2 separate regions of the Homo sapiens genome follow, and region 2 is linked to region 1. Evidence: fine-mapped expression QTL. A gene starts in region 1. The other region holds a variant in brackets. All regions are shown on one strand. Distances are from middle to middle. Region 1 holds the start of EPB41L2 (erythrocyte membrane protein band 4.1 like 2). Region 2 overlaps EPB41L2 (erythrocyte membrane protein band 4.1 like 2).

The links. PIP is the estimated chance that this variant, and not a neighbour inherited with it, causes the effect.
Region 2: its variant is the best candidate, but not a certain one, in a credible set for the expression of EPB41L2 in aorta (GTEx, PIP 0.55).

Annotation. Positions count from the first base shown.
Region 1 is chr6:131,060,221-131,065,603 of GRCh38, reverse strand. EPB41L2 (erythrocyte membrane protein band 4.1 like 2) reads left to right here and starts at 2,359. Exons shown (of 20, transcript NM_001431.4): 1 at 2,359-2,449. LOC105378004 (a long non-coding RNA gene) reads right to left here and starts at 2,201. Exons shown (of 3, transcript XR_942993.3): 1 at 1,988-2,201. RefSeq lists silencers at 2,123-2,462, 2,803-2,902.
Region 2 is chr6:130,949,473-130,954,855 of GRCh38, reverse strand. All of the region lies in intron 3 of EPB41L2 (erythrocyte membrane protein band 4.1 like 2), which reads left to right. Among named protein-coding and RNA genes, the nearest start is that of EPB41L2, 110 kb to the left of the region's middle. The variant T/C (reference allele first, on the strand shown) is at 2,114.

The sequences.
Region 1 (5,383 bases):
CTATGGGGGTGAGTTGGTAAGTAAGGGCACTAAGGAGGTCCTGGGTACATTTCTAGTCCATACTTCCAGACTAACTTTGCTTGCACATAGTGCCCAGGATTGAGGCTATTATGGTAAATTTGGATGTGGTAGCTCTCAGGACTAGTACCTATATTCTTCTCTTGTTCTCTGTGTCAGTCCTTTGCCTGTTACTACAGTGTGTCTAGCAGGAAGACCCAATCTTGTTCTACCTAGAGTGTTTTCCTGGGGATTAACATTCTGCCCTTGAACTGCAGCCTGGTAGTCCTGACAGTGCTTCCGCCTGCCTGAGTCTTTGGATGTCACCTATTCCAGGACTTTGTCCTTCTTTCTGTTCAAACCCCTCTTCTCTTCTTGTTAGACTTCCCTGGTTGTCTGGACTACCACCTGTTGTTTGCTAAATCTCTATGATGCCACTTCCATCAGTTTTCTTCACTTCCTTATAGCTTCTGGGACTTGATTTTTCTGCCCTCAGTTCCTGCTAGGTCCTCACTGAATCTGTTCCATTCCATTAAAATGCCAGGGCTATGTAAGGCTGTGTCCAAAAACAGAGTTCAATTCTTCTTTCACACAATAGCCTTTATACATTTGACAACCTTTTTATCACCTTTAATCATCTCTTTAGGCTAAATCTTGCTGGTTCCCACATTTTCAAGGTCACCCATTTATGGTTATAATTTAGCTTATCAATATTTTCTTTTGGAGGGAAAAATTTCTTCTTAAGAGGTGGCATATAGGAGTGATTCATGTACTTCAACGCAGAGTATAGTAAGCATATCCTTTCTTATGAGAAGGGCATTATATTTTATTAACTATGCCTATATTTATGTTATTTTGCACTAGCATTTTAAAGGGGGCTCCATCAGGGTGGTTCAATGTTTTATGGGCCCAAAAGCTTATATGACTTTAGGGACTCTTTAAAAAACACAAAATGAAATACAAAATTATAAAGTTAGTTTCAAGGCTTGTGAAAATGAGAGATCCCGAAGTTTGTTTCATTAGTTTCGTTGTAAATCTGCTGCATATTTCTTATTATGAGAAAATAATAGTATTTTCTCATTAAATTCCCAGGTCTCCTTTACCAGAATTGCTGTCTAATCAGATTTCTGCTCTGTTTTAGCACACCTTATAAAATTTAACTTGTATACTTAGCATATGGGATTGTGATTAAATTAATACATGTAAGGGACTTAGAACAATGCCTAGCACATAAAGCACACAATCAACCTTAACTATTATTATTTGTATTATTTACTAGAAGGACCTTGGCAAATAATTTATCTTCCCAAATCTTTTTGATGTAATGGAGCTCAAACGTGCCTGCCTTTTTCATAGGGTGATTGTGAGGATCAAATGATGATAAAATATGTGAATGTATTTTGTTAACTGGAAGGTATTGTTACTGAGGTTTCATTTGACATTGTTAATTTTGGAAAAGGTTCTGTTTAGGAAAGAAAGGGAGACGACTTTGGCTGTGGTGGAATCACTAAAGACCTCAATAAAAGTGGGAGGAGTAAAAGGGATAAGAGGTGCGTGTGAGGCAGATGCTGGAGGCAGTGAGCTGGACACGTTGTTTGACACCAGCTTGACGTGCAAACCTTCAAAAGATGAAATATATTGAATCTGAAACATATTGACCTCATTGTACAAAAGAAAAGAACCAGAAGGGTAGCGTGTGTGTGCTTGTGGCTTTCCACAATTTAGCCCCAAACTAGGTTTTTTCCAGACTCTTCTTCACCCGTGGTCATGCTCTGCAATCCAGATTCCCAGGCCTCTGCCCAGAGAAATCCTACTTACTCTGGGGAGGCCTTTCCTCCACGGGGTTTCCCCAACCCCTCCTGTCCCTCCCACAGGAAGAATAAATGGTTCCTTTTCAATGCCCTTCCTGTGAAAGCACTTTTTCCACTCTAGACTGAGGGAGACCCAGTTTTCCTTATTCTGCATCTCCAGGCTCTGCTCCAGTGTTTACCTCTAGGAAGGCGCTCAGTGAAGGTTTAGTCAGCAAATGCACTTTGAATAAATAACTTTTAAAAGTTGAGAGGACATTTAAGGCCGGGAATCGCAGTTGAGAACGCCTTGCCCAGGCGCATTAGCTGTCATCCGGGCTGCCCTGAGGGCGAAAGACGTCCTCCACCCCCGGGTCTCCGCGGCCGCGCTTGCCGAATCCCGCGGGAAAGGTCCCCCGCCCGCGCAGGGGCGGGGCCTGGGCGTCGGGGGCGGGACCGCCCGCGGGGGTTTCCGCGCCGGGGGCTCGTCCGGCGGGGTCGCGGGAGGGGCTTCCGCCGCGAGGGGGCGGGGCCGGCCCTCAGAGTCCTCTGACGGCCCCAGTCAGGGAATTTCAATTTGAAACCTAGCGGAGGGAGGAGGCAGGCGCGGCTGCCGGCGGCTGGGACTGAAGAGGGACGGGTCCCGCGGCGAGCGAGCTCCTGAGGTACGGCGTCGGGGTAAGGAGGCGTGCGGGGCTGCACGGGCCGGGCGACTGGTCAGTGTGGGGTTGCAGGGGCGGCTCAGATTTTTCCTCTGGCTGCAGCTGGGAAGCTGATTCCGGGCAGGAAGCGGTGGCGGGACGGTCCCACCGGGATGGGGGGCGGGGAGAGGGGGCCCGGCTTTGGGATTTTCTGCGGCTCCCTCTCTCCTTTCCTTCCCGGTCTCTGCCCGACCCGATTCTTGCCCGGGGGTCCGGGTCCTGTTGCTCCGGGCCGGATCCCGGCTTCGCTGCTCCCCGCGGTCCCCCTCTTCCCTCTTCCGGGGGACCGGGGCCGCGTCCCGGCGGAGCCAGGAAAGGCGGGGGCACGGGGAGGACGCCGTCCCCCCCGGGGTGCCGTGGGCTCAGGTCACGCGTCCGGGCCCCGTGGAGCAACAGCGGGAAAAATCCGGCTCCATCCCCCCCGCGGGGAGGGGGTCGGCCGCGGCGTCGCCCTTCAGGAGGAAGGTTTTAGGAGGGGAAGCGCGGGCCGGCCGCGCGCGTGGGGACTGCGGGAAGCCGGGCGAGGGCGGCGCGCCAGCCCCACGCGCGGTGCGGGTCGGGCCCGCTGTAGGCTCGCGTCCGCGCCCCCAGCTGCCGCCTGCGCCGTCTGGGAGCTGCGGAGAGGGACGCGTGTTTCGTGCTCCGATCCTTACAATTCCCACACCCAGGCCATCTCACCACAGATGGCTTGTTTTTTCTCCTCCTGCGCCTGGGGGCCGAGGGTTGGGAGCATTTTTAGGTGAGCAGCGGGGAAGGGCGAGGAGAACCTAAAGGAGCGCGACAGGGTTGAAGTCGGCGTCTGGGGACGCCATCCCCAGGCGCAGACGCTGCCCCCAGCAGCCTGAGGTCTGTGGTGGGACATCAGTTATGCTTCTCTAGATCGCTCACCTCCCCTGAGGTCAAGTTTTTTTTTTTATATATATGTATAAATAAAATGAGGTTTGGTGAGAAGAACTACTGCCTAGAGTCTATTATTTTGGGGAGGGGTCTGCGTATGGAGCCCTCCCTACGGACCCGGGTAGTCTTTCATTGAATTGCCCCATCAACACCACAGCTGCCCTTAATTTTAAGATCCCTGGGTGGATGGGAGAGAAGGTGGAATCTAGAGGAGCTGTGGCTATATTTTCGCTTTTCTGAATCACATCTTTCCCCAGTTTCTTGAACTTCTTGCCTCTGAAATGGCATGTGTGTGCCAGGCGTCTTGTTCCTCTTGTTACTGTTATTTAAGCTGTTTTAAAAAAACGACTTTCGCGGTTTTCCCCTCAGTTTTTCAGTCTTTATTTCCTCCCCCACCCTACGTTTTTATTGTTTTTTTCAACGGAATACATTATTTATCTGGTCTCTTTATAACGCTGTTGAGAATTAGCATTTCAGTTGGTGTTCTGTCAGATTTCACCTTGGACTTAGCAGTTGAGGGAAACTGAGTCAGTTTCTATGCTGCAGGGGCTAGGATTTAGAATTCTCAAGCTTTGAACAGGTTTCAGTGGGGGAACGAATAGTGCTTAATCCTATTCAGTTTCCCTTTGCAGGCTCATTGCTGTGAGAAATCACTGGGTGGCTGTTGCAGCCACTGATGGGGGCTGCATTGCAATGCAATCTTGAATTGTGATAAGGGCCAACTGGCTCCATCCGTTAGGCTGTGAGTTTGACACAACTTTTGAAGAGCTATGCTGTGTCACCTGTCAGAGCTCGAGTGGTCATTCTTTTAATTCAATTTAAGAACCACCATCAAACTTCAGATATCTATTCTTTGGAGGTTATTGGAGAACTGTACAAGTGGTAATGGCTTGGAACAATGGTGTGGATTTAGCGCTAATTTAATCCTATCCTGTCTTCCTCACTTCTTGGGCAGAATTCCCACTGAAGTCAGTAGTGGTCTTGTGTGCAGACAGACTGCCGAGAACAAGAGGCTGCTCATTTAGAGTAACGGGAAGGGACGGTTTCTTTCCTTTTAAAACATCCCTCTGTAAGAAAGACTTAGTCATAACAGTTCTTTAATCTTTAACCACTAGTCCAAGTAGTTGAGAGCACTTTTTGCAAAAACCTTCGAAAGAAAATTCGTGGATGAATTGAGCCACGTCCCTCGAACTCTTCATATATCTACGTTGCATGGTGATCCTTAAAAAAGATTAAAAGTGATTTTAAAAAATCAGTTAAAGCTATAATTTCAGTAAAATTTTTCCTAACTTTTGTAAAAAATGTAAACTGCCAGGGAGCATTTTGTAGCAACTAAGTGTGTATATTTCAAATCTGAAATTTAAGTCCAAGTAGAAAGAAGCAAATTTAATTTAGGGGATGAATCTGAAGAGAGGCCACCAAAAAAATAACCATCTAAATATAAAAGAAGGAAGTTCAGATATCTCTTGCTGTTTTTCAGGAGATAGCTTTAGGGCAGTTTGCTCACTTTCATACCTGTTCTTAACGATTTACTGACTGCCTGGGTCCATCATTAGATAATGCTAGCACTTGGAGGTTTCCAAATGAGTTTTGTGCTGATCTGAGTTGCTGAGCTAGTTAGATCCTTGGCTTCTTAACGTAACATTCTTGTGGCTTACCCTTTCCAAATTACTAGTTCTAAGGAATTGAGTTTAGAAAACCTAACCAGTGACCAGAATGTAAAAATAGGTATTTAAAAATCAGAACCATGTCCACGTGTACTACCCAACCACTTGCTTTCAACTAAAAATACTTGCAAAGATGACAAAGCAGTCCACAACCAAAATATTTATTGGTACAATTTCTCTGTAATTAGTAATATTGTACAGTTATGTTTAACATCAGGTTCTGCCCTGAATCACCCCTCTCATATTACTGTGGCTGGTGAACTACAAAGGTTGTATCTTTGCCATTTCATTTAGGAATATAGGGTTTATATTTTATATAGCAGAATGCTAAATA
Region 2 (5,383 bases), 110 kb after region 1:
TATTTGGAATATTGCTTTTGGCTAGAAGATGTTTTTCTTGAGGAAAAATGATAGCACTAGGCTGACATTTCAGAATAAAGAAGTTTCAGCAGTAAACTTAGCCCCAAGTGTTTTATCCTGAGACAGATACTGGCTTAACATCTAATTTATTTACTTTCATTTAATTAAAAAACATCTATGATTTGCAAAACATACAGTTCATTAGCGCTGGTGCTGACAGAAGTCACTTTAATCTTTTAACGCATCTAGTACCTTATAATTTTATGTCAATCAGAAGAGTTTGTTGCTTTCCACAAATTATTTACGTAACGTATACTAATAGCTAATGTTTGCTGAAGAACTGTGTGAAGTGCTTTGAATGGATTATCTTGTTTAATGGATTATCTTGTTTTATTGATTAAGAATCAATAAAGGTAGATATTATCATTGCTATTTTCAGTGTTACATGTTACAACGGGGAACTTAGGGCTTAGAGAAGTTAAATTCCTTGCCCAAAGTTTTAGGGCTGGGTGCGGTGGCTCAAGCCTGTAATCCCAGCACTTTGGGAGGCCAAGGCGGGCGGATCACGAGGTCAGGAGATCCAGACCATCCTGGCTAACATGGTGAAACCCTGTCTCTACTAAAAATACAAAAAAATTAGCCAGGCGTAGTGGCGGGCGCCAGTATTCCCAGCTACTGGGGAGGCTGAGGCAGGAGAATGGCGTGAACCCGGGAGGCGGAGCTTGTGGTGAGCTGAGATTGCGCCACTGCACTCCAGCCTGGGCGACAGAGCGAGACTCCGTCTCAAAAAAAAAAAAAAAAAAAAAAAAAAAAAAGAAAGAAAAGGACTAGCAAAAGAGGATTAAAAATCCTTGTCTTAGTTGTCTTAGTTTTTGCTGTTGTAACAAAATACCGTCAACTGGGTAATTTAAAAACAACATGAATTTATTGCCCACAGCTCTGGAGGCTAGGAAGTCCCAGATCAAGGCACCAGAAAATTTGGTGTCTGGTGAGGGGCTTGATCTCTGCTTCCAGGATGGCCCCTCCTTTCTGGATCTTCACATGGTGGAAAGGCCAAGTGCTGTGTCCTCACCTGATGGAAGGACAAGGCAGCTCCCTTCAACCTCAGTTACAGGGGCACTAATCCCAGTCATGAAGGCAGAGTGATTAAGTCATTTCCTAAAGACGCCACCTCTTTTTTGTTTTTTTTTTAATACTTTAAGTTCTAGGGTACATGTGCACAATGTGCAGGTTTGTTACATATGTATACATGCGCCGTGTTGGTGTGCTGCACCCATTAACTCATCATTTAAATTAAGTATATCTCCTAATGCTATCCCTCCCCCATCTGCGCACCCCATGATAGGCCCCAGTGTGTGATGTTCCCCTTCCTGTGTCCAAGTGTTCTCATTGTTCAATTCCCACCTGTGAGTGAGAACACGTAAGACACCACCTCTTAATGCCACCACCATAGGGATTAGGTTTCAGCGTGAATTTTGGAGGGAAGCATTGAGACCATGGCAGTCCTTAAAGCTTTCTTTTCTTCTCCTGCTCTTTTTAACACTTTGTTTGCCCTTTCCTGAGACTCCCTTTCTATCCCAGGGAGAGAGGAGAGGTCTTAGGGATAGGAGTAAGAGACCATAAAGAAAGGGACAGAATGGTTTTTTGAACTTGATTACATTATATTTGATTGCATGTCCCTTGTCTTTCCTACCTATCCTAGAAATTAGGGGATGTAGATTTTTGAGAACCAACTTGATGTTAATGTGACCTTAAGTCATTTGCTCAACCTCTGTAGACCTCAGTTTCTTCATCTGTAGAATATAGAATTATTTAGATCATCTAGAATGCCCTTTTATTTCTGAAGTTCTTTATATCACTAAACCACAAGACTGACCAACGTACTTTATGGTTTAAATCTATCTTTGTTCTCTTTTTTAAAAAAAATCATAAAATATTTTAAAAATACAAAAATATAAAAATAATAGAGGAGACAGTTGTGTATCCAGCACAAAAATTTCTATCATTTGTTACCATTTTGCCATGTGTTTTAGATTTTTTTTTTTTGAGATGGAGTCTTGCTCTGTGGCCCAGGCTGGAGTGCAGTGGCACGATCTCGGCTCACTGCATCCTC[T/C]GACTTTCTGGTTCAAGCGATTCTTCTGCCTCAGCGTCCTGTGTAGCTGGGATTACAGGCATGAGCCACCACACCCAGCTAATTTTTGTATTTTTAGTAGAGACGGGGTTCCACCATGGCCAGGATGGTCTCGATCACCTGACCTCGTGATCCGCCCACCTTGGCCTCCCAAGTGCTGGGATTACAGTGTTTTAGATCTTTAACAAAATAGAACATTTAAGACATTGCCAAAGTCTCATTCTCATCTTTTCCTTCTTGTCCTGCATGTATCTTTTTGTGATATATAAATCTATTCATTTAGACTGTTGTATAGTATTTCTTTGACTAAACTAGTTTATTCCCCTCCTGAGTCACAGTTTCTTTGTATACTATAAGAAATAGTTCTTTAGTGAACATTTTAAGACATGTTTCCTTGTGTAAGAGTTTCTTCAGGGTAGATACCTAGTGGCGGAATTGCTAGATTGATGGAATCCAGTTTTACTTCTTCAGTTTCCCCAGATATTGCCAAAATAATAAATGAAATTGATAAAATTGACCATTTACATTTCAACCAGCAACCATTAAGTTTGATTTTGCCACATTGTCATCGGTGATTCTTGTTACCAGACTTATTAATTTGGACCAATCAAATGTATGTGAAATACCTTCTCAGTATTTTAACTTGCATTTGTTTGATCACTGTCAGCTTTCACTAGGTTATGTTGCAGTAGCCAAAAAATCTGCAAATCTTCACGACTTTTAATAAAAATGGTTTATTTCTTGCTCATGTTACATGTGCTTGGTGGGTTTGTTATGGCTCTTTTCCACACCATCTTTATTTCTGATCAAGACTGAAAGAATAGCCTCTACCTGGGATATGCTGGTTTCATGATAAAGGGAAGAGAAAACATGGTAGAACCATACTACAGTTCTTGAATCTTCTGCTTGGAAGTGGTATATATTACTTTAACTCACATTTCATTGGCCAATTAAGTCTCATGGCCAAGGCTGATAACAGTATAGTGGGCAAGTATGATCCTCTCATGGGAAGGATACTCAAAACCATGAAAACAGTACTACAGCTTATATTAGGCTGGTGCAAAAGTAATTGCAGTTTTTGCCATTAAAATTAATGAGGCTGGCCGGGCACAGTGGGTCATGCCTGTAATCCTAGCACTTTGGGAGGCTGAGGCAGGCGGACCTGAGGTCAGGGGCTCGAGACCAACCTGACCAACATGATGAAACTCCATCTTTACCAAAAATACAAAAATTTTAGCCGGGCGTGGTGGTGAGTGCCTATAATCCCAGCTACTGGGGAGACTGAGGCAGGAGAATCACTTGACTCCATGGGGCAGAGGTTGCAGTGAGCCAAGGTTGCGCCACTGTACTTCAGCCTGGGCGACAGAGTGAGACTTTTGTCTCAAAAAAAAAAAAAAAAAAAAAAAAAAAAAGTACTGAGGCTGAGCATCTTTTTTCTCCTCCCCTCCCCCCCTCCCCCTCCTTTTTTTTTGGAGACAGTTGCTCTGTCACCCAAGCTGGAGTGCAGTGGCATGATCTTGGCTCACTGAAACCTCCACCTCCTGGGTTCAAGCAATTTTCCTGCCTCAGCCTCCCAAGTAGCTGGGATTACAGATGCATGCCACCATGCCTGGCTAATTTTTGTATTTTTGGTAGAGACGGGGTTTCACCACATTGGCCAGGCTGGTCTCAAACTCCTCACCATCTTTTTATGTTTTATTTAGGTTTATATGATCACTCTGAAATTTTTAAAAATAAATATTATTTCTCAGATTAAGGACTTTCTCCCCTAGTTTCTAGACTTACTCATGAGTAGGTGGTGAATTTTATCAAATGTATTTTTTGCATCAACTAAGAGGATCATGTATTTTTCTAACCCGCTAATGTTGTAATCTACATTATTTTCTACTGTTAAACCATCTGAATTTCTAATGTAAACTTGGTAGTGATGATTCTGCATTCATTTTGTATTATTTTTATTTAGGACTTTTGCATATATTGCCTTTAATTTTCTTTTATCGAATTGTCTTCCTCAGATTTTGTTATCTGGGTTGTATTCTATCCTCATAAAGTTGCTTCCCTTTTACCATTACCTAGAAAAGCCTTGGATAAATTACTGTTGGTCTATTTTTGGTGATCTGGTAGAACTTGACTTTAAAACTGTCTTGGATGGTAGCCTTTTTGGGAGAAGAGTGGAAGTGGAAGGTAGTTTTTGTTTTTTTTAAATCGTTGATTCAAATTTTTAAATTTTTTTTTCCCGAGTTAGTTACAGCAATTAATATTTTTGGTAGAGATTGTCCATTTCATCTAATTTGACAAATTTATTGGCATGAAGGTTTTCATAATATTCTTGTTTTGTGCATTTGATTTTTATTTCTTATTTCTAGTGTCGTTTGCCTTTTTAAAATTATTCTTACTATAGATTTACCATTATATATTTTTTCCCAAAGGAAACAACTTGGTTTTATCATTTCTATTGTATCTTCTCTATTTTGTAACATTTCATCTCGTTTTGCTCTTTTTCTTTGGGATAACTGTGCTTTTTCTAATTTCTTAACACTTAAAACATTGCTTTCATAGCTCTAATTTTCCCTTGAAGTACCTCTGATTGATTGTACAAATTTGAAATACAGTTGACCCTTGAACAAGGAGGGAGTTAGGGGTACCAGCCTTCTGCACAGTTGAAATTTTACATATAACTCTTGACTGCCCCCACATGTAACTACTAATAATCAGTCTCCTGTTGCCTGGAGCCTTTCCAATAACGTAAACAGTCAACACAATTTTGTGTGTTGTATTATATACTGTATTCTTAACAATAAGGTAGAGAAAAGATGTTCTTAAAAAATAAGAAGGAGAGAAAATATATTTACTATTCATTAAGTGGAAGTGGATTATCATTAAGGTCTCCATTCTAATTGTCTTCATATTGCCTGAGGAAGAGGAGGAGGAAGAGGAGGGACTGGTCTTGCTGTCTGTTTCTTGGTGGAAGAAAATCTAGGTGTAAGTGGATCCATGCAGTTCAGACCTGTGTTGTTCAAGAGTCAACTATATAGTGCTTTCATTACCATTCAGTTTTAATTTTCTCGTCCTATCCCATTTGGGTCTCCCCTCTCCTCCACTCTCCTCCCCTCCCCTCCTCTTCCCTCCTCTTCCCTTCCCTGTCCCTTTTCTTCTTTTTTCAACAGGATCTCTCTCTGTTGCCCAGACTGGAGTGCAGTGGCAGTCCCTCTTCTTGCCTCAGCCTCCAGAATATATGGGGCTACAGATATA